Linked DNA regions of Homo sapiens. The protein of the gene in region 3 purifies or fractionates together with the protein of the main gene of each other region. This does not show direct contact. Each region holds a gene or a part of one and is shown on either strand. Other genes may lie near its edges.

Evidence for each region.
Region 1: the proteins of DCP1B (region 3) and DDX6 purify together in Homo sapiens (affinity purification with mass spectrometry; 8 studies listed by BioGRID and IntAct, with this or other methods). This does not show direct contact.
Region 2: the proteins of DCP1B (region 3) and ATXN2 purify together in Homo sapiens (affinity purification with mass spectrometry; 2 studies listed by BioGRID and IntAct, with this or other methods). This does not show direct contact.

Annotation. Positions count from the first base shown.
Region 1 is NC_000011.10:118,788,159-118,795,410, forward strand, and holds the start of DDX6 (probable ATP-dependent RNA helicase DDX6), read right to left. Parts: upstream 3,007-7,252; 5' UTR 2,940-3,006; intron 2,785-2,939; exon of another isoform or gene 2,697-2,784; intron 1-2,696.
Region 2 is NC_000012.12:111,596,228-111,603,490, forward strand, and holds the start of ATXN2 (ataxin-2), read right to left. Parts: upstream 3,089-7,263; 5' UTR 2,808-3,088; coding exon 2,557-2,807; intron 1-2,556. UniProt on the Homo sapiens protein: Involved in EGFR trafficking, acting as negative regulator of endocytic EGFR internalization at the plasma membrane.
Region 3 is NC_000012.12:1,994,423-2,001,529, forward strand, and holds part of DCP1B (mRNA-decapping enzyme 1B), read right to left. Parts: intron 3,554-7,107; coding exon 3,513-3,553; intron 1-3,512. UniProt on the Homo sapiens protein: May play a role in the degradation of mRNAs, both in normal mRNA turnover and in nonsense-mediated mRNA decay. May remove the 7-methyl guanine cap structure from mRNA molecules, yielding a 5'-phosphorylated mRNA fragment and 7m-GDP.

The DNA.
Region 1 (7,252 bases), on a different chromosome or scaffold from region 3:
TTAACTGGGCGTGGTGGCCCTGTAATCTCAGCTACTTAGGAGGCTGAGGCAGCAGAATCACTTGAACCCAGGAGGTGGAGGCTGCAGTGAGTCCAGATCATGCCATTGTACTCCAGCCTGGGCAACAAGAGCAATACTCTGACTTAAAAACAAACAAAGCAAACAAACAAACAAAACCCACAAAACTAGTCAACCTCAGTTTAAAATTATCCCGTAAATGGAAATCTTACTTACTTTTATTTTTTATTGTATTTTTTGAGACAGAATCTTGCACTGTCACCCAGGCTGGAGTGCAATGGCGCGCTCTCAGCTCACTGCAAGCTCCGCCTCCTGGGTTCACGCCATTCTCCTGCCTCAGCCTCCTGAGTAGCTGGGATTACGGGCATGCGCCACCATGCCCAGCTAATTTTTGTATTTTTAGTAAAGACGGGGTTTCGACATGTTGGCCAGGCTGGTCTTGAACAACTGAGCTCAGGTGATCCGCCCGCCTCGGCCTCCCAAAGTGCTGGGATTACAGACGTAAGCCACCACGCCCGGCCTATTATTTTTGAGACAGAGTCTCACTCTGTTGCCCAGAGTGGAGTGCAGTAGCCCGATCTCAGCTCACTGCAACCTCCACCACGCAGGTTCAAGCGATCCTCATGCCTTAGCCTCCCAAGTAGCTTGGTGGGATTACAGGTCTGGCTAATTTCTGTATTTTTCAGTAGACACGGGGTGTTATCAAGTTGGCCAGGCTGGTCTTGGACTCCTAACCTCAAATGATCTGCCCGCCTTAGCCTCCTAAAGTGCTAGGATTACAGGCGAGAGCCACCGTGCCCGGCTGAAATCTTACTTTTAATTGGAGTTAATAAAAACATACAAAGACACGAAAACAAAGCCCTACTCTGTTGGCTTTTGATTTAACCCCGTTACACTTTTTTTTTTTTTTTTTTTTTGAGGCGGAGTCTCGCTCTGCCGCCCAGGTTGGAGTGCAGTGGCACAATCTTGGCTCACTGCAACCGCCGCCTCCTGGGTTCAAGCGATTCCCCTGTCTCAGCCTCCCGAGTAGCTGGGATTACAGGCGCCTGCCACCACGCGCAGCTAAATTTTTTCTATTTTTAGTAGAGACGGGGTTTTGCCATGTTGGCCAGGCTAGTATCGAACTCCTGACCTCAGCTGATCCGCCTGTCTTGGCCTCCCAAAGTGCTGGGATTACAGGTGTGAGCCACCGCTCCCAGCAACCCCGTTACATTTCTTATATAAAATACACTAGCTTACGAGTGCTGATTCTTTCTGCCATACACCAAGGCATGTGAAACTCAAAATTTTAAAGTCAACAGATCTCAACATTTATGAAGAAAATGCTCCTTGATTATGCCTTCCTTAAAAAAAAAATGAACAAGTTGCTCACAAGCAAATCCTGATTATCACATACACAAAGCTGTTTACTTCAGACTCTGACCTCTTAAGCAGATATGGTTAACAGCTACTTTCCTGTATTGACGGTTTTATATTATGATCAGCGATATCACGCAGTTCACAGAGACTTAGCTGTTTGCAGAGCACTAAGAGGATGAAAAGGGCAACCTCTAAAGACCGAACGATATCATCATTACTGTCCATCATGCACAGTAAGACCTCCTATATCCTTAAATCCAAAATGAGACTATGTGATAACTGCTCCCTTCTTAAACTGAAACCTGCACTGCAGCTTTTTCTCAGAGAAGGAAATATTCCTCCTACCCCTTCCCAATTTAGATTTGCAAGTTTTCTACATTTTCAAAAACAAAAAACAAAAAAACAAAAAACAAACAACAAGAAACGTAGACTAGTTGGGAGGAGCCCCTAGCGGAGTTAATTACAGCACTTCACAGATCGTAGTTAGCAATTGACAGTTTCACACCCAAAACAGTATCGTCATCGCCAACAAGAGCTTTTGTTTGCAAATGCAGCGCAGTTTTTCTAGCTTTGCCTGCAAGTTGGAGTGACTGGGTTTTATTCTGAAGGGAAATGGGGGCTGAGGAAGAGAAAGGAGAGAGATACGGGAAAGAGTCATTGACTAATGACTGGAACCCCGTAACTGAAAGGAAATTTCTTGTCCCCCCGCACCCCGCCCCACGCCCCAAACACACACACTTCTGACCATAAACACAAAAGGTTGGGGCTCTGCAATCTTATCTGCGCAATATGAGCCAGCAACCGCTCCATTAGTAGCAAACAATAGGGACTCCCCCAAGGAGGCCCCAAATGGACCCCCTAAACCAGAAATCCCCCTCCTTTCCTCCAAGAGTCGGGGGCTCCATAAATACCCTCTTGTTATTGACCCGCAAGGCCTACTGCAATCAAGCAGCGGCCGGTTTGCTTCTAAACCGAGCCCTCCAATACAGCATGTCCCTGCCGCCCCCTATAGGGCCGCCTCGTACCCTATAACCTCCACCATCATCCCCCTAAGTCCTTGCCGCCCCCTTCGGCCTCATATTCCCTCATCTTCGATAAAGCTACTCCGAGTACTTAGCCTGTTCCTCCTGCCGACCCTGCTGCGCACCACATTCCTATATTCGCCTCCTCTCAGGCGCTCCCACCCCACACAGCTGCCGACCGCCTTCCTCCCCAGGCCCGGCCAGGCCTTAGGCCTCCGCCCGAGAGTCCCCCAGAGCCGGCCCGGGGGGCTCCCCACAGCCCCCAAAGCACCGCTGACCTCGACCCCACCACCTCACCCCAAGCCTCGCGACTCGGGCCCGTGTCCTACCAACGAGGCCACTCCCGCTCGGCACCCTCGGTCCTTTATTGTTGACTCGAAGCTCCCAAAATGGCGGACGCTCCTTCCTCCTCGGAAACCTCCGCCCGCCCCCACCCAGCCCTCTCGCTACGGCCTCCTCTCGCCCCCGCCCCCGCCCCGCTCCGAGGGGCGCGCAGGCCAGCCGCCCGAGCCGCCGGCTCCCCCGGCTGTCCAGCCCTACCTCCTCCGCTGCCCGCTCTCGTGGCGCCGCCGAAGTCGCCGCCTGGCTGAGCTAACTCGGCTCCTCTGCCCCCTCCCTCGCTCGCCCGTTCGCCCGCCCGCCGCCTCCTCCCTCTTTCCCTGCCTCTCCGCATGGCGGCGACCGCGGCTCCTCCTCCACTCAAGATGGCGAAACCTCGGCCGCCGCGGCTATATTCGCCGCGGCGTCACTGCCTTCCTGGCCTGGTGGTGAGAGGAAGTCGGGCCGCGAAAGCTTCCTGAGGAGAAAATGGAGGGCCCTTCTCTCACACCGACGAGAAAAGTTCGAGGGGGAAATACGAGTTCCTTTCTGAAGGGACAGGACGGCTGCTTTTCCACAGCCGCGACGTGATTGAGAAATGGTGGCTGGCAAGGGTAGGCCTGCCTTCGCCCCTCCAAAGTAAAAATCGGGAGTTGAGACCAGAGGAACATCTCTTTATTACATGACTAAGGATATGTTTTGAAAACTGGCCCCCGGGCAGCTGCTCGGGGACAGGAAGCTGACCTGACTTCTCCAGCTGGCCGGGGAGGCTGATGCCGGGCCTAAGGGGCCGCGTCCGAGCCTCTCGGGGCGCGCCTCCATGCAGGAAGGCGCGGAACTAGCGACCCGGAGACGCCGGGCGCGCGTCTGAGTGTGGGGGCAGGAAGGGGGGCCGACCGGGCCCGGAGGCCGCACCAGGCAGGAGGGAGGACTCCAGAGAGTGCGCGGGGGGCGCTGCGCGGTGGGACGGGGCGAGCCTGTAGGGCGCGCCTGGCGGCGGGTAGGCTCCGGGCTTGAGGGTGCGCCTGGGGGCGCTGGTTGTGGGGGAAGGCACCGGGCTTGAGGGTGCACCTGGGCGGGGGAAGTCTTCGGGCATGAGGGCGCGCCTGCGGGTGGTATGGGGGGGTACACCGAGCTTGAGGGTGCGCCCGGGGGGCTCTCATGTGAAGGGTACCAGGCTTGAGGGCGCCCCTGCGGGGGGCGCAGAGGCACCGAGCTTGAGGGTGCGCCTCGGGGGTCTGCGGGGGGAAGGCACCGGACTTGAGCGTGCGCCGGGAGAGGACGGCGGGGGACCGGACTGTGAGGGCGTATCTTGGGGGACCTGTCTAGGAGGAACCGGGAGGTGAAGGCACAACTGGGGGTGAGGCGGGGGCAGGGGCCGGGCTGTGAGAGTGCGACTGAGGGGGGATTACTCCGGAGAGCACGGAGCTGGGGGCGTTGCGCAGGTGGAGTGGGGAGGCCTGGTGGAGAGGGTAGCAAACCGAGAGAGCGCACCGGGGTGGTGGGGGGAGAAGCTGGACTGTAAGGTGAAGAGTTAGTAGGGCGCAACCGTCTTCTCCTGCCCTCGAAGGGCAAGACTGAAGAAAGTAGGGGCGGAGGAGGCCGGGCCCTCCACTAAAGGGAGGGAAGCTAGTGAAGCGTCAGTTATAATAGAAATAGGAATTCAGTAAGGAAATGGAGAAGCTTAAGGCAAAGGGTGACTCTCCGGCCTGACCCTCACTATGAAGATATTTATGTATGTTCCCATAATACTTTTCAGATCCCAATGTCTGTGTTTATCCTTGACAGAAATAATAGAACTGCTGTCTTCTTCCAAGTTAAACAAAACTTTGGAGCTAAAAGCTAGCTAGGTCAAGAGAAACAAAATCTAATCCTCACCCAATTGAGAGACTGAATATACAAAGAATGGCCAAACCTAACCATGACCTCCTACCCATAACCTCTTCAGTAATCGGCCAGAAGGGTCAGGACTTAATCTTTAACCGGCAGCTTCCCTATTTCTTGCCCCTGCTTCCAGCTCTGGGCCAATCAGAGAAAGCCAAATGTGCTCCTCACACCAATCGCGTAAGAAGCCCTGCTTCTAGTATAGCCCTCCTCCAACTTCCCGATGCCAACATCCTCCAATCAGAGCCAACCTGAAGTTTCTCCCTTTTTTCAGTATATGTAAAGCTTTTCCACTCCCCTGCCTGCCTATGAGTCTGTTAAATCAAGTGATGGGTCGCGGCTGACTCTTGCCAGCTCTGAGTAAATAGCCTATTCTCATTTGGTGGTCGTTATTTCTACACAGCCGGTGGGAAGGTGGTGGAGAATAGTGAAGACTATTCTTAAGGTTAAAAAGAAGGTTCGGCTTACATTTTTTTTTTATTTTAAATTTACAGCATGGCGTCTCCAGCCCAGGTTTTAAAATACCTTCTAATGTAAGGAAATAGCCCTGCACCTTGTGCCCATCCTAGAGAGAAAATGGTTTCTTAATAAAAAATGTATGAGGCCTTTTTTGCCCCAATATCTTCCCAAGCAGAGGAATGTGAAGGGGGGTTGGGCCAAGAAGTGAGTGGTAGGAAGAGAGGCCTACGGATTTAAAACAGGCCACTGCTTGGAGGGGTGTCTTTCCTAAACCACTGAAGAAATTGAACCAGGCAAAGGAAGGGGGTTCACACCCACAAATAAACTATAACCTACAAAAGGAGCCCGGGTTCACATCCACAAATAAATTGTAACCTACACAAGGAGTCTGGTTGAGGTCACAAAACAAAAGCCAGGAGGCAACCAAAAGTAGAATATGAAATAGGTGCTGCCTTCTCACCTAGGAATCCTTCCAGGGCTAAAACCTTCAAATATTCTGCTTTTAAGGTAGTCAGATACCCTCACAACTCATTTACATCAGCCCTTCTCTGTTTTCAAGTGAGAAGCATAGATGGTTTAGAATTAAGCTATGAACTCTTGGATCTTTTCTTCCAAGTTTAGTGTTAGTGGTAGATAGGTCTAGTCCAACTATCTCAATACATTGTTTTCTCCCTAGTTAAAACAGATTTGCAAGAATCATTTGTATGACACTTTAGGAATACAGATAAATTGCTAGTGCAAATAATATCCTTATATTTATAAAATATATGTGTACTTTTAAAAAAGTTATATGAATCCAATCCTCTGGCCTTTTAGTTAGTATTGAGTGTGATAGTTGTGGGAGATCTGTAGTAAATACGGTTTCTGAAGGGTGTGCTATCATCCCTAATGAACTCACCTATTAATTGTGGTAAAGAGTTTTTCACTTGGGCTGGGCACGGTGGCTCACGCCTGTAATCCCAGCACTTTGGGAGGCCGAGGCAGGTGGGTCGACTGAGGTCAGGAGTTCCAGACCAGCCTAGCCAACATGGTGAAACCCCGTCTGTACTAAAAAAAAAAAAAAGAAAAAAAATAGCTGGGCATGGTGGCAGGTGCCTGTAATCCCAGCTACTTGGGAGGCTGAGGCAGGAGAATCCCTTGAACCTGGGGAGGCGGAGGTTGCAGTGAGCCAAGATCGTGCCATTGCACTCCAGCCTGGGCAACAAGAGCAAAACTCCGTCTCAAAAAAAAAAAAAAAAAGAAAAAGAAAAAGAAATGAAAAAAAAAGTTTCCCAACATGTATTAGCCGTTTTCATGTTGTCTGTATTCACCTTTGCGTCATCACCCCTCTTCAATTTCCTCCTGGAATTCAATCACAGTAATGGGTTATCTCAGCATATATTATTCGCCAGTCTCACATCCTGACCTCATTTATTTACCTAAAAATAACCAGAACGAAAAAAAAATCACAGATTAATTTACACTTGATTTCACTTTAACTTCAATTTAAAATACTTAGAATCCAGAATTCCTAGTAAGTTGAACCTGGAATACGCAGACCTGTGATAATATCTTAAACACTCAAATGTTTTCAACTTGCTGAAATGGAGTTCACACTTTTAACATTCTGGGCTTTTTTTTTAAAAGGGACTATAATACTTTAACTCAAATTACAATCAAATGTGTTCATTACCTATAAGAAAAAAATTTTACCTATCTCATATCTTCAGTGAAATGATTATATCACATCTGGCTAAGCTTTACCATTTGGTATTTGCCCTCTTTCAAGTGATTTGCAGTATAATACTTTGATTTCCCAAAATTTCAACATACAAAGTTATTTTCCAAATATGCTCAAGCAACATCTGATCATCACTAACAAGACTAAAGGCTAATATGCCCAAGGAGCCAAGTCCCGTTTTCTTGGGACTTCATAGCAGGTAAAAATTGCCTTTTCAATTTATACACCTGAAGAAAGTGAAGCAGCATCAGTCACTGAGGGCTTAGTAGAGATGTCCTCAGAGAGGTGCACATACTGCGCTGAAGTTGATGCATACTAAGCAGGCGTGCTTAATCACTGAGAGGTTACATCAGGCACATTTTGTTGGAATAAATGTTCCAACCCCTGAGTAAACTCAAATTGAAAAGTAGGAAAGTTGGCCAGCGCGGTGGCTCACACCTGTAATCCCAGCACTTTGGGAGGCCAAGGTGGG
Region 2 (7,263 bases), about 110 Mb from region 3:
ACACACACACACACACACAAAATTAGATTACAGTAAAATTATGTTCTAATATTGTGATTACATTATCTTTCCTAAAACAGCCACCTTCAAAAATATATATAACAAAGAACAAAATAAATCACTTCTGAAAGTCATGAAAAACTATTCACACACACACACACAAAGTCAAATTATGAAATGTTTCTTAAAGCAGATGTGAATTTCCAGACTTTCAAGCATATTTTGCTATCTCGAAACTTGTCAAACCGAATGCTGCATTTTTTTTCACCCTTGCTCTCAGAGACTTATTTTCACTGTTGATACGCACAAACCTAAGTGAGGAGATTCTAGAAGCTGAAACTTATTTACAAGGAATGCAGGAAAGTGATTCAAATTCAAAGTAATTCTACAAGTACATTAACGATCTGTTCAAGAATAAAACTTCACATTACACAAATCCAACACAGTAAACAAAATTTCACCTATTCATCAGAAAGAATAAGGGCTGCCATTTAGGTCTCAAGTAAAAGAACTTAAAGCAAGGAAAAATCTAAATTAACCTTAAATTGTTGTAAAGCCTCAAGGAACAGAAAAAAGACCTTGTGGTACTAAAACATTCCAAATATCTTTGATCACTCAAACTACTCAGGAGCAAATTCTCTTATAATCTAATTTTTAAGCCTAGTAGTCAATGCAACTTAATAACCTTAGTTTTAATGTTTATATATTTGAACATGTTGAATTATCTGCCAAATCTCTTCCTAATACCTAAGAAAGTAAAAACAGAATACATCCTTTTCTATAAAAGTTGTATTTTAAATTTTTTCATTTTTCGCTAGATGCCAACGAAAAAGGGAAACTGAAGTTACCCTACTTGGGGAAACGATCACTTCATCTGAACTAGTTTGGCTAAGTAGTGTTTGGGATGCTTCAGACTCAGAGAAGGGGAAGGGGGGGCGGGGCGTGTAAAGTCAAATAACCGACTGTTTCCGCCCCCTTTGAAGGCAGCAGAATTCCTTAAAAACCAGCTGATTCCTCTTGATGGGGAATTTCTGCTGTAAATAAAAATTCTTTGGAAATGGGTTGCTGAAAATGTGTTTTCAAAAAGAAAACTCGGGTGAATGAAAAATCCTCTTATTCCACCTTCCAAAGCCCAAGATGCCTATTTAAGGAGGACGCCGGTCACCCGCCGTCAAGCCGGCGGCCTAGGCCTAAAGAAGGCACAGTAGTGCCTACAACACGGATGGACTTGAGGCACAAGGGAAATGGACTTGCGTGCCCTTGGTAAGCTCTGGCGGCACTCCCGAAGTTAAGGACACCGGCCACAATGGAATGGAGTCTATTGACGTTTCCTTCTCCCTTTGAACACTAAGCATTTTCTTAGTTCGTGAAATACGAACTGACAACCGCCCGCCACCCCCAACAGGCCCTCCTGCACAAACACACCCTCGAGTCAAACCCAGTTAGCCGGGACAACACTGAGCCCCCAGCCCCTACTACAACCCCGGCTTAGGAGGGAAAAAGACGCTAGTAAACACCCGCCTTTCTGCCTTCAGGAACCCGACCACGTCCCCTGCTGCAATCTCTCTCTCCTAGCATTTCCGAAATTGGGGCGGGGGTTGGGATAAGTGCGCAGGGTGCCCGCCCCCTGCCACCAGCACCGCCACCCCGGATCTCCAGGGTCCAGCCTGGGTCCAGCCCTCACCCACCGATGTTCCACAGGCGCCTTCTCCACTGCGGCCTCGAACAGCAATGCGGATCGGCCACCACCCGCGCGCCGGAGAGGTCTGGCGGGGGAAGGAGGAAGGCCGGGACGGGGCCGGGCACTCCCCACCCCTTCCCTTCCCCAGGTGGGGGAGGGTGGAACGCTGCCGGAGGCCACATGGAGCCCCACGATTTCAGGGGAGTTCGGGAGCCCCCGCCGCCGCCTCGGACACGAACGCAGAGGGGTGCGGGGGCCAAGGCCCACTTGTCTCCACCCCGTCCTCCGATCTTTCCCAGGACTCGGAGGGGGCGGGGAGAGAGCCCCGACAGACCCTGATGATTCCGGAGGAGCCCGGTGCCTACCCCTTTAACCGGCACGGGGGACGCGGCCCTAACTTCTCCCCTCCAGAGATGTCCCCCATGGAGGGGGACATGTTCCGGAAAACGCCACCACAGCCTCCAGACCCCTCCAACGTTCACACCTAAACCGGGAGTGGAGGAGCTGCCCGAGCATCCCCACGCTGCGGGCGGAGGATCGTGCGGAAGGGGGAGCCGGGGCTGACCATCGCCGCTACCCGAGAACCCCTCCCAACACGCGTGGGGAGGGGAGGCCGCCCGCTCCCTCCATCTTGACCGCCGGGGGAGGGGGCGGGGATGCTGCGGGAGGCTGGACAGGCCTGACAATCCCAGAGGACCCCGGCTGCGCCCACCGGCCGAGCCTCGGGGCTCAGGCCCGAGCGAGTCTCCCCCGCGCTGCCGGCCCCCAGCCCACCCCGGGTAGCCCGGCGGGTCACGGGGCGGGGACGGCGGCGCGGGCCGCGGGGGAGGGGACGCCGGGCCCGGAGCGGAGGGGGCTGGGGTGCCGACACCCACCTGCCCAGGCCGGGCCTCCCGCCGCCGGAGGTCGCCGCGACCACCGAGGAGGGAGCCGTGGCCGAGGACGAGGAGACCGAGGACGAGGACGGCGAAGGCGCGGCGGCGGGCGACGCTAGAAGGCCGCTGCCGCCGGGCTTGCGGACATTGGCAGCCGCGGGCGGCGGCTGCTGCTGCTGCTGCTGCTGCTGCTGTTGCTGCTGCTGCTGCTGCTGCTGCTGCTGCTGCTGCTGCTGGGGCTTCAGCGACATGGTGAGGGGCCCATACACCGGCTCGCACGCCGGGCGGGGACAGCCGGGAGCCGGGCGCGCCAAGGAGACGCCGGAACGCGGCGGGGACGCGCGGGCGCCGAGCGGGGAGGCGCGGGTTGGCGCGGCCGGAGGGGCGCCCGGGCTGGCGAGGGGGAGAAGGAGGACGACGAAGGGGCGGGGAGGCCCGCCGAGACCAAGGAGCCGCCGGGAGCCGGGCCGAAACGCGCCGCCGCCGTTGCCGTTGCTACCAAAACAGTCTGAGGCGGAGGGAGGCGAGCTCTGCCGGGAGGGAGGGGGGCCGGGGCCGGGCGGGGGAGGGGCGGCGGAGGGATACGGTCCCGGGGCCGCGCCACCGCCGCCCCGCCCGCTCCGCCGCGCCGGCCGCTGGAGCGAGCGCCACCCGGGCCACCTGGCTGCGGCGAAGCGGCGAGACTCGGTGGCCACCGCGGGACTCCGAGGAGCTGCGGCCGCTGAGCGCATCGGAGGGCGGGCGCGCCGAGGCGCCGGGTGGGAGCGGAGGTGCGGATAGGGACTCTTTACCGGAAGTCGGAGGGGTCAGACGGAAGCAGAACGTGAGGTGGCCCCGGGGCCGGGAGGGACACGTGAGGAGCGGGCGGCGCGCTGGGTTGCTTTCTCGGGGGTCGGGTGAGGGCCAGGCGGCGGTCCCTACCCGGATCCGCCTTCCTCAAGGCGGGTCTGCCCTTCGGGGAGGGCGTGTCGGTCTCAGCCTCTGGGGCCTGCCTGGTGTGGAGGACAGGAGAGAAGCATTTCTTCTCCTACTGTATTCCTTCAGCATCTTCACTTCTGCGGGGACCTAGTTTGCCCCCACCTGATGCAACCCAGAAAATGGACTGACTGCGAGTGCCTTGGGGCGGAGAATGTGTCTTGCTACGTGTAAAGCACCTAGAACCCTGCCAGATTCAGGGGACACAGCATCCTGCCGTTTTCCTGCCGTCCCCCGCCCGCCACACAGTAGGCGCTCCAGTGGCTCGGGGCATCTACCAGGCAGGCCGCGCTGTCCTGCCCTGCCGGGGCTGGAGTGGAGCAACCCTCCGGGGCCACCCACATCTGGGTACCTTTTCCCCACTTTTTCCACCCCAGCCGCGCACAGTCACCAGAAAACTCTTTTAGGTATCTGACCTTCATTTGAACCTATGTTCCCTCACTTGAACTTCTTTTTCCTCATTCATGAGATTCTAAAGGAAATATATGGGATTGGGACTGGTAGAACTACGGATAATGGGATCTCCCTCGGTAGAGACAGAGCCGACCTCAAAACAATGTGCGAACTTTAGACCTTGGACCCTTTAGAAGTTTTAATTTAACTTACCCAGCCAGCACAGTAGACTCTTTTTAAAATGTGTTGCAGTTAAACTGGAAGCAAGTAGAAAGTAGGTAACTTTTTTTTTTTTTTTTGAGCAGTGAATCTATTGTTTTTTAAAGTGAAATGACTTCAGGAAATAATAGGGGAAGAAACACCAAAATTCCCCTCAATGTCCTAGAACTGTCCAGATAAAGGTAAAGACTTAGATAAACGTGGAGAATGATTGAACCAGCAGTTTTCAGTAGTCCAACTGAAATTAACCTCCTAGATAGTCCAGGCAAAAATGATCATTGTATTCTGCCAATGTAGGAAATCAGTTTTATTTCCCATCTAAGGTAAAAAGTAGATCAAGGGACCATTGCAAAACCCTTTAAAAATTAACCTAGCCTAGCCAACATGGTGAAACCCCGTCTCTACCAAAAATATAAAAATTAGCCGGGTGTGGTGGTGGGCGCCTGTAATCCCAGCTACTCGGGAGGCTGATACAGGAGAATTGCTTGAATCCGGGAGGTGGAGGTTGCAGTCAGCCGAGATCATGCACTCCAGCCTGGGCGACAGAGCGAGACTCCGTCTCAAAAAATAAATAAATAAATAAATAAATAAAGTAACCTAAAGGAAACTGGAACTAAAAAACCAGTTGAAACAAAAAAATACCTGTACCCGGCTGTGGTACAGGCCAGGGCTGCTGTGAGGGGAAGCTCCTGGAGAGGGTGACATGGGGCAGGGACCCAAATGAGCATGGGCATGAGGATCCTGGGGAGAAACGCTCCAGGTGGAGGGCACAGCGAGGGCAAAGGCTCTGAGGGGGGAGTCTGAGGAACAGCAAGGAGGCCTGCAATGGAGCAGGTCGTCAATGGTGTCCCGTTATATTCTTTCTTTAATAGAAATACAAACACTTGGCCTGGCGCGGTGGCTCACACCTGTAATCCCAGCACTCTGGGAGGCCGAGGCGGATGGATCACCTGAGGTCAGGAGTTCAAGACCAGCGTGGCCAACATGGTGAAACCCCATCGCTACTAAAAATACGAAAAAATTAGCTGGGCGTGGTGGTGGGCATCTGTGATCTCAGCTACGCAGGATGCTGAGGCAGGAGAATCGCTTGAACCCAGGAGGCGGAGGTTACAGTGACCAAAGAGGGCACCACTGCACTCCAGCCTGGGCAACAAGAGCGAAACTTTATCTAAAAAAAATAAAAATAAAAAAATACAATCACTTTTCTCTGATTGGAATCAAGGTCCCAGAATACAATCTTAAGAACAAGTTTTGGCCAGTGTGGTGGCTCACGCCTGTAATCCCAGCACTTTGGGAGGCAGTGGCCGGTGGATCACCTGAGGTCAGGAGTTCGAGACCAGCCTGGCCAATTTTTAGTAGAGCCCATCTCTACTAAAAATACAAAAATTAGCTGGGTGTGGTGATGCGCACCTGTAGTCCCAGCTACTTGGGAGGCTGAGGCAGGAGAATGGTGTGAACCTGGGAGGCGGTGCTTGCAGTGAGCGGAGATCACACCACTGCACTCCAGCCTGGGCGACAGAGCGAGACTCCGTCTCAAAAAAAAAATAGTAAGTTTCAGGTCGATGGAAGTTGAATAAGAAGGCCTAGGCTGGATACAGTGGCCTACACCTATAATCCCAGCACTTTGGAAGGCCAAGGCAGGCAGATCCTTTGAACCAAGGAGTAGGAGACCAGCCTGGGCAACATAGTGAGACCCTCCTCTCCATAAAAAATTTTTCAAAATTAAAAAAAAAGAAGGCCTGAAGCTGACATAGCTGAGAAAGTTTGTTTTAACTCACTACCATTGAATAAAAACTTAATAGTTTTATCAAGATATAATTTACATACTATGAAATTCACCTATTTTGTGTACAATTTAATGATTCTCAGTAAATTTACACAGTAAATTTGCACAACCATTGCCACTAATTTCAGAACATTTCCATTACCCCAAAAAGATCCTTCACGATGGTGGGCAGTTTGGTTCCCATCCTTAGCCCCAGGCAACCACTCATCTACATTTTCTCTCTATGGATTTGTCCAGATTTTTCACATAAGTAGAATCTTACAGCATGCAGCCTTTTGTGTCTGCCTTCTTTCATTTGTCATAATGTTTTTGAGGTTTATCTAAGGTTGTGGCATGTAGCAGTATTTCATTCCTTATTATTGCTATGTCATATTCCATGTATGGACATACCACATTTTGTGTCTACTTTCCAATTGTGGATGTTTAGATTGTGTCAACTTTTTGAGTATTATGAAAATGCTGCTGGGGCTGAGATTGGTGGCTCACTCCTGTAATCCCAACACTTTAGGATACCGAGATGGGAGGATCACTTGAATACCCCGGAGTTTGAAACCAGCCTGGGCAACATAGAGAGACCCTGTCTCTATGAAAAACTTTAAAAATAAAAAATTAGCTGGTTGGCTGGGCGTGGTGGCTCATGCCTATAATCCCAGCACTTTGGGAGGCCGAGGTGGGTGGATCACCTGAGATCAGGAGTTCGAGACCAGCCTGGCCTACATGGTGAAATCCCGTCTCTACTAAAAATACAAAAAATTAGCCAGGCGTGGTGGCGGGCACCTGTAATCTCAGCTACTTGGGAGGCTGAGGCAGGAGAATTGCTTGAACCCAGGAGGCGGAGGTTACAGTGAGCCGAGATTGCACCATTGCACTGAAGCCTGGGTGACACAGCAATACTCTGTCTCCAAAAAAAAAAAAAAAAAAAAATTAGCTGGTCATGGTGACACGCACCTATAGTCCCAGCTACTAGGGAGGCTGAAGCAGAAGGACCGCTTGAGCCCAGGAGATCGAGGTTGCTGTGAGCTACGAATGCGCCACTGCACTCTAGCCTGGGCAACAGACCAAGACCCTGTCTCGTTCAGTTAATAGAGTTGCTAAAACACACACACACACACACAAAGAAGAAGAAAGAAAAATAATAATGCTGCTATGAACATTTGTGAACATATATCTTCATGTGGATATATGTTTTCATTTATCTTGGGTTGGTTCCTACAAACGAAATTGTTGGGTGATGTGGTAAGTTTATTTAGTTATTTTTATTTTATTTATTTATTTATGGAAACTACCTTTTCTCTGGACTTCAGAAGGCTTAAGCTTTATATGAAAATATCAGA
Region 3 (7,107 bases):
TCTGAAACCTCCAATTTTAAAATTGATGGGAGGCAATCCTTGCCTAGCTTATTTTACAAAGGGGTAAAGTGGTGGTAAGCATACAATCAATACCAGAAATAATCATGATCATCACTTCAACTTAAATTCAGAGGAAGAATGAAAATGTACTCCCAAAGAGCTCTGTTAGGGGTCTTCTGGAACTGTCAAGTTCAGAAATCACCAGTGGGTGTCTCTATGAACTCTCTATTACAGAAAGGAAGGCATGGGAGGAAATAAATGATTTTTTAAATGGGATTAAGTGTTTTCATACAAGAATGAGAATTTGATTCTGCATGTATTTCATTATCACAACAGGATCTCACCTCTTTAATAGTACAGCTACTATAGCATCTCATAATTTAGAAAATAGGCCCAGGGGATAAATGTGCCAACTGCTCTAAAGCAACTTCTGTAAGAGAAGTCAAAATAAATCACTGCCAGCTCCATTCCCTGTAACAAGCCTCCCACCCCCCACCCACCATGAGTTTTACATGCTTTTTGTAATTCGCTACTGAAGAAAGCCTTCAACATTCTAGGATCTGGGAGGTTTTTGTTTTGCAGGGGATAAGGGAGGCATCCCATTCTTGAGGAGTTAGATTTGGAGAAAAGACTAAAAAACAGCAAAGGATTTTTTTCTCAATTTAATGTTTTGTTTAATTGAGAGTTCCATTAGAGACTTAGAGTATAGTAAGAAATCCTTGAAAATACAAACTTATATTTGGTCTGGATGTACAAAAGAAAATATTTGTATGATTTGTTCCTCTTCCATAGTTAAAAAAAAACCCTACTAAAAATTCCCCAAATCAATCATTAATACTTACTAATACATCTTTTCTGTCACTTCTCCAAAGAATCATAATGCGTGTTGTGAGAGATGAGTGAGAACGCACCCTGTGTGCATGGCACATAGTACAGTGCAACCCTATGGCTTTTGTTGTAAACTTCAGAATCCTCAAGAGTGCTCATACTCTACCCAATAAACTTGCCTGGGGGCATGCTCTGGTGCTCTGGATGTTTGGGAGCATAATGTAGACTCATATACCAACGGTTCTTGGGTACTCCACTGCTCTTCTGAGACTGTGAAGAACCTGACCTCCTTGTCACCAAGTGTGCTGGCCTTGCCTCCCATTCCTTCCTTCCACCTCCCATTGTTGCCTCCACTGGAACAGACCTTCCTCCCCTGCAGCTGAGCTCCCTCCTGCCCAGCATACACAGACCTCCATCATGCCCACACTTTGCCCCAAATGGGCCTCTCTGTGCTGTTCTAGTCCTGCTTTTATCTTTCCAGCTGACTCATCTGTATCCTTGCTGGCCCTCAAACCTAACCATAAACCCTCATCGGTTCCTCTTTATACTCACTCCTTCAGGGAACAGCTTTTATTTCATGGTTTCAACTACCAAATTACTTCAGACAACTCTAAACCATCTCCAGCCCTGCCCTTACTCTGAGGGGCTGGCCACCTCCACCCAAGTGTCCTGCTACCAGTTCCAAATCATTACTTCAAAGTAAAATGAGGGCTGATCCTCAAGCCACATTCTTGACCTCCTGTCTTTCTTTTCCACCAATGCTTCTGTCATTCTCAATCTTCCATGTTCAAAATATTGTCATTTTTAAAATTTCACCATTGCAATACCCTTTCCATTTCAATTTCTATTATTCTAATCCCAACTCTCATCATTTCATATCTACCCCACTGCAATAATCTTCTCACTGTCCTGACTCCAATTTCTTCCAGAACTAGTGCGTCCCCATGAAGTGAATACACTGACTTTCCCCATACATTTTCTCTATTACTCTCCTGTTCATAAGCCTTCAATAACTTCCTACTGCTAAGAAAATAATCTCAAAATCCAGAGTCTGCCATTCCAAGCTAGCAAATCTCTTTACACTTGCTAACTACTATAAACCAGTATAAGCCCTCTGCACCACATCTCCCTCACTGTCCCTTTAACACACCAGGTTCTCCGCCCCTGCTTTTGCCATTCTTCCTGTTGAGACTGCCTTCCCTCTCCTCTATGCAAGCTAAGTTCCACCATATTCCTGAGGCCCAATTCAAGACACATCACTCTATAAAGCAGGGGTGTCCAATCTTTTGGCCTTCCTGGGACACCTTGGAAAGGGAAGAATTGTCTTGGGCCACACATAAAATACACTAATAATAGCTGATGAGCTAAAAAAAAAAAAAAAAAAAAAAAAAAAAAAAAAAAAAAACAACAAACTCTTCTAATGTTTTAAAGAAGTTTACGAATTTCTGTCAGGCTACATTCAAAGCCATCTTGGGCCACGTGTCCTATGGGCCGTGGGTTGGACAAGCTTGCGATAAAGCCTTCCATGATCACAGCAGCCCATTCATTGCTCAGAATCTATCCACTGGCACTTAGGATACTCTATCCTGTATTGTGGCTTACCATAAACATGAATATATGTGGAAAGAAAATACACTTGTGTGTGTGTATTTCCTGTCTCCCCAGTGAAACAGATACCCCTAGAAAGGTTTATATTAGGTCTTTTAATTTCATCTTTGTACCCTCATTGAAGGTGATGACCTTTGGCTATGACATTTTATGTGAATGTTTATGTGAATGAAAAGTTTATTTATTGAGCCAATATACATAATGTATGTCTCTATATGCACTCGTAATTTGATATTAATATCTGATAACAAGAAATGACTAAAAACATGAGTTTATTAAATCTATCCTGAAACATATTCTATTGACTAGACAATGGAGGACTGAAAGACATCTTCAATTTTGGATCATGCTTTTTTAAAGAGTCAGGGGTGGGAGAAAAGTGATCAACAGCCAGGTGCGGTGGCTCACGCCTGTAATCCCAGCACTTTAGGAGGCCAAGGCGGGTGGATCACGAGGTCAGGAGTTTGAGACCAGCCTGACCAACATGGTGAAACCTCCGTTGCTACTAAAAATTAGCTGGGCGTGGTGGCGCATGCCTGTAATCCCAGCTACTCAGAAGGCTGAGGCAGGAGAATCACTTGAACTCAGGAGGCAGAGGTTGCAGCAAGCCAAGAGCTGTGATCGTGCCACTGCACTCCAGCCTTGGTGACAGAGCGAGACTCCATCTCAAAAAAAAGAAAAATGATCAATGAAACCCTTTTCCAAATATTAACTGAACAATCTAGTATTTCTGATAGTGTTCTTCTAGCTCCTTGCCAATGCATTATATTCAAGAACTTTGTGCCATTCACTTGAATCAAAGAATATTTAATCTATTTTAAACAGTGCCCAGTCAATGATTTAAGTTCATCTACATTGAAGTTTAAATTATATTCTGAAATTAGTATTCATCACGATATACCAGGTGACATTATTTGGTATTCCCTTCTTCGTGTCAACTAATAATTTCAAAACTGAGATTTAATTCTTTTACTTCTTTTTGAAATAAAACTGCATGCACTTGAAGAAGAGTGACACAACGGAGCTAAAATATTATTTTGAAGATTAGTTTCTTTATAAAAGTGAAACACTCTTACCTTGTATAAACAAATAAGGTTCCTTCCACATCAGTTTTCTCCTAAACAATAAAAACAAAACACACAAGACATGTATGTTCTCTTCAATTCACAAAGGTATAAAACAAATTCTCATAGAATAGGAATTATATATAACTTCAATGGGCCAAATATACCCAACATGAGGAGTTATTCTCAGGAAAAGGAGAAAGCAAGTTCTATGTCATCATTGTGCCTCTGCAGATTAGGCAGCAGGAAGCAGTCTTTCTTTTGTCATTTATAAAACAAATCATCATTATCTCTCTTTACCAAATACAGGGATAGCAGCATACCCTTAGCTGAAACAATGAGAAAATAAGTGTGCTATGCGGATTTAATTAGAAAGAAGAGTGCTGCCTTTTTCTCCTTCCACCACACTGGGTATAGAGAAAGCTGCAGACATCACTGGTGTCTGCATTTCACTATCCTTCATTTTGTTTTCTGGGTTCATTTTCTCCTGCCATATCCAGTGACTTAGGAGAGCAGATGATCTGTCAATAACTTTACTTTGACTGCTAGACAGAGAGGGCAATGATGCCACAGAGTTCTCAGATGAATCAATCACCTACTTAGTGTAGTATATTTACAGTCAAGGTCTGACCCGAGATCACTGAAGTAAAGTTACACAAGTATTACCAAGTTAGGACTCAAGAAATCTGCCTGAGAAAATCTGGGAGAGGTGGTAAAGTTAAAATGATGGTTTAACTAGGTCACTTCACATTTCTTTTCCATTTCTCCAAAGGCAGGAAGCTAGGCCATTATAATATTCATCCATATAATGCATACTAAAAAACACACATGTAAGTATCCAGGTGTTTGACTAACCACGAACCAGACCTACTGTAATTCAGAATTTAAAATGTACTTTTGCAATTTACATGGTTTAATTTCAGCATTCTATTTAAACCCCTGATATTTTATTATTAATATTCATCACCATAATCATTCAAAATTTAAGTACTCTGTAATTCTGGTGAAAAATACGCCCTTTTAAAAAAAGCGTAATGTCAAAACAGCAGTTTTTAAAAGGCACACAAGGCATGATCCTTTCACATGCTCAGGCAATTTCAGCAAATTTCTCATTCACTTTAGTTCAGTGGGTCTCAAAGTGTTATCCCCAGATCAGCGGCATCAGCGTCACCTGGGAACTTATTAGAAATGCAAGCTCTTGGGCTCCTGCCCAAACCTACTGAATCAGAAACTCTGGGGATGGTGCTCAGCAATCTGGGTTTTATTAAACTGTCCAGGTGATTCTGATGTATGCTAGTTTGAGAGCCACTCACTGCCTTAGTTCAACAACATACTCTCTGCCCATGAAATTATATTACAAGTCCTGAAAACAAAATCCATTATGGCACAAATCATATCAAGCTATTATCAAGAGTAAATGGCTATAAAAAATCATTACCTAGTAACAAAATATTTAATCTCAAGATGTTTATTATTATGGAATATGAAATTATAAATAAAGAATTTAGACCAGGCACAGTGGCTCATGTCTGTAATCCCAGCACTCTGGGAGGCTGAGGCAGGCAGGAGGATCGCTTGTGGCCAGGAGTTCAGTTTGAGACCAGCCTGGGCAACATAGTGAGACCTTGCCTCTACAAAACAAAAATTTTTTTAATTAGCCAGGTGTGGTGGCACATGCCGGTAGTCTCAGCTACTCAGGAGGCTGAGGAGGGAGGATTGCTTCAGCCCAGGAGTTTGAGGCTACAGTGAGCTATGATTGTACCTCTGCATTCCAGCCTGGGCAACAGAGGGAGACCCTGTTTCTTATAAATAAATAAATAAATAACAATTAAAACAACTTTAGCCAGTTTTTTCCCTAACATAAAAGCATAGGTAAGTCAGGGAGTTCATCCTTAAACTAGATTCACTATGAAGTTTGTATAAATCACCACAACATACTGTGAAACATATCCTTATTTCTGAAATGTGGCTCGTTTGCCCCTGTACTTTGAAAAATATCCAAGTCAAAATGAAAAAATATATATACAGAAACATTACTTATCTTTCTTTGAAAACAAACATGGTTAATTCCTATCTGCTGACAAATGTATATCCTGAGTGTACCTGAAGCACTAAGAATTACTTACACCCAAACCACCAAAGTATTAATCAGGAAAATGGCCCCTACAGTACAGTAAATGCTACCTGAACAGTATACAAATTTTTGGCTGTCCCTAAAGTTTAACTGATTCAGTCAGCAAGTATTCACAAGTCCACAAAGCATTTAAAAATAAATTTGTAGAAAGTATTTGGTATTATCCATTACATTGTTAGGAAACTGAGCCAAGATACAGGTGATAGAACTAGGACTTTGCAGAACCTCTATGTAGTCAGGATCACTCCCCACAAGATCAAAACACTCTCCTGGTCTTCCAGTATCTGACCTTGGACTGTTTCATCTTAGAGATCTGAATAAGGATATCTATATATATCAGCACACATAAAACTAAATAGCTTCTGACTTGTTTCCTTTCTTCCTTGATGTAACAGAAATTCTCTTTTCTTAATTAAAAAAAAAAAACCTTTAATGCCACATTTTAGTTTTTAAATTCCAAGGTCAAAAATGTAAAAGGCATGCTTCTCCTAAAATTAATCTCTAACTTATAACAAGTAATTCTTAAAACTAAGATTTTTATTTAGCATTACACACAAAGAATATGAGTTTGTTCATAGGAAGGAGTTGTGTTTCAGTAATCACAACCTGGGACCTGTAGTGGGGTTCTTGCCAGATCATGCTGGGCTAATTAGTTTATTATTATATGTCTCAGTTTCTCCATTGAAAAGAGATAACCAGGCCGGGCACAGGGGCTCACGCCTGTAACCCCAGCACTTTGGGAGGCCGAGGCGGGTGGATCACCTGAGGTCAGGAGTTCAAGACCAGCCTGGCCAACATGGTGAAACCCCGTCTCTACTAAAAATGCAAAAATTAGCCAGGAGTGGTGGCAGGCGCCTGTAATCCTGGATACTCTGGAGGCTGAGGCAGGAGAATAGCTTGAACCCAGGAGGCAGAGGTTGCAGTGAGCCATGGTCACGCCATTGCACTCCAGCCTGGGGAACAAGAGCGAGACTTCGTCTCAAAAAAAAAAAAAAAAGAGAGATAATCAGCTTACACTACTCAGATCTTTTGATGAAAAAACGTCAGGCGCTCTATGACACCTGGATAAAAGAGACTTTGAAAATATACATTTCTGTTCTATTACAGCTGCCCAAATTCACGCATTTTCCTGGCCCCTCCATAGTTATCCAAGGGCAACCAGATTTTTTTTTTCTTTCTGAGCAAAGTCCAGGGTTAGGGATGTGGAGAATAGCTAAAACAAGATTAGATGTTCCTTAGATCCTTTAAGGAGGACTTTTATGTGAAAGTATTAGTTACCAGTCCTGGGGTATTTTAGCTTAAATTTTAAAAGTACAATTTGAGGATTTAATATTATACTGTATTATAAAATCTAACAAGTGCTAAAGAAATAAGCAATTCAGAATTCAAAATACTAAAAAACCCAAAATGGAATATAAAATAGTGCTGTTTTGCAAATTTTGGGGACTCTGCACACTGTCTGACACAAACTAG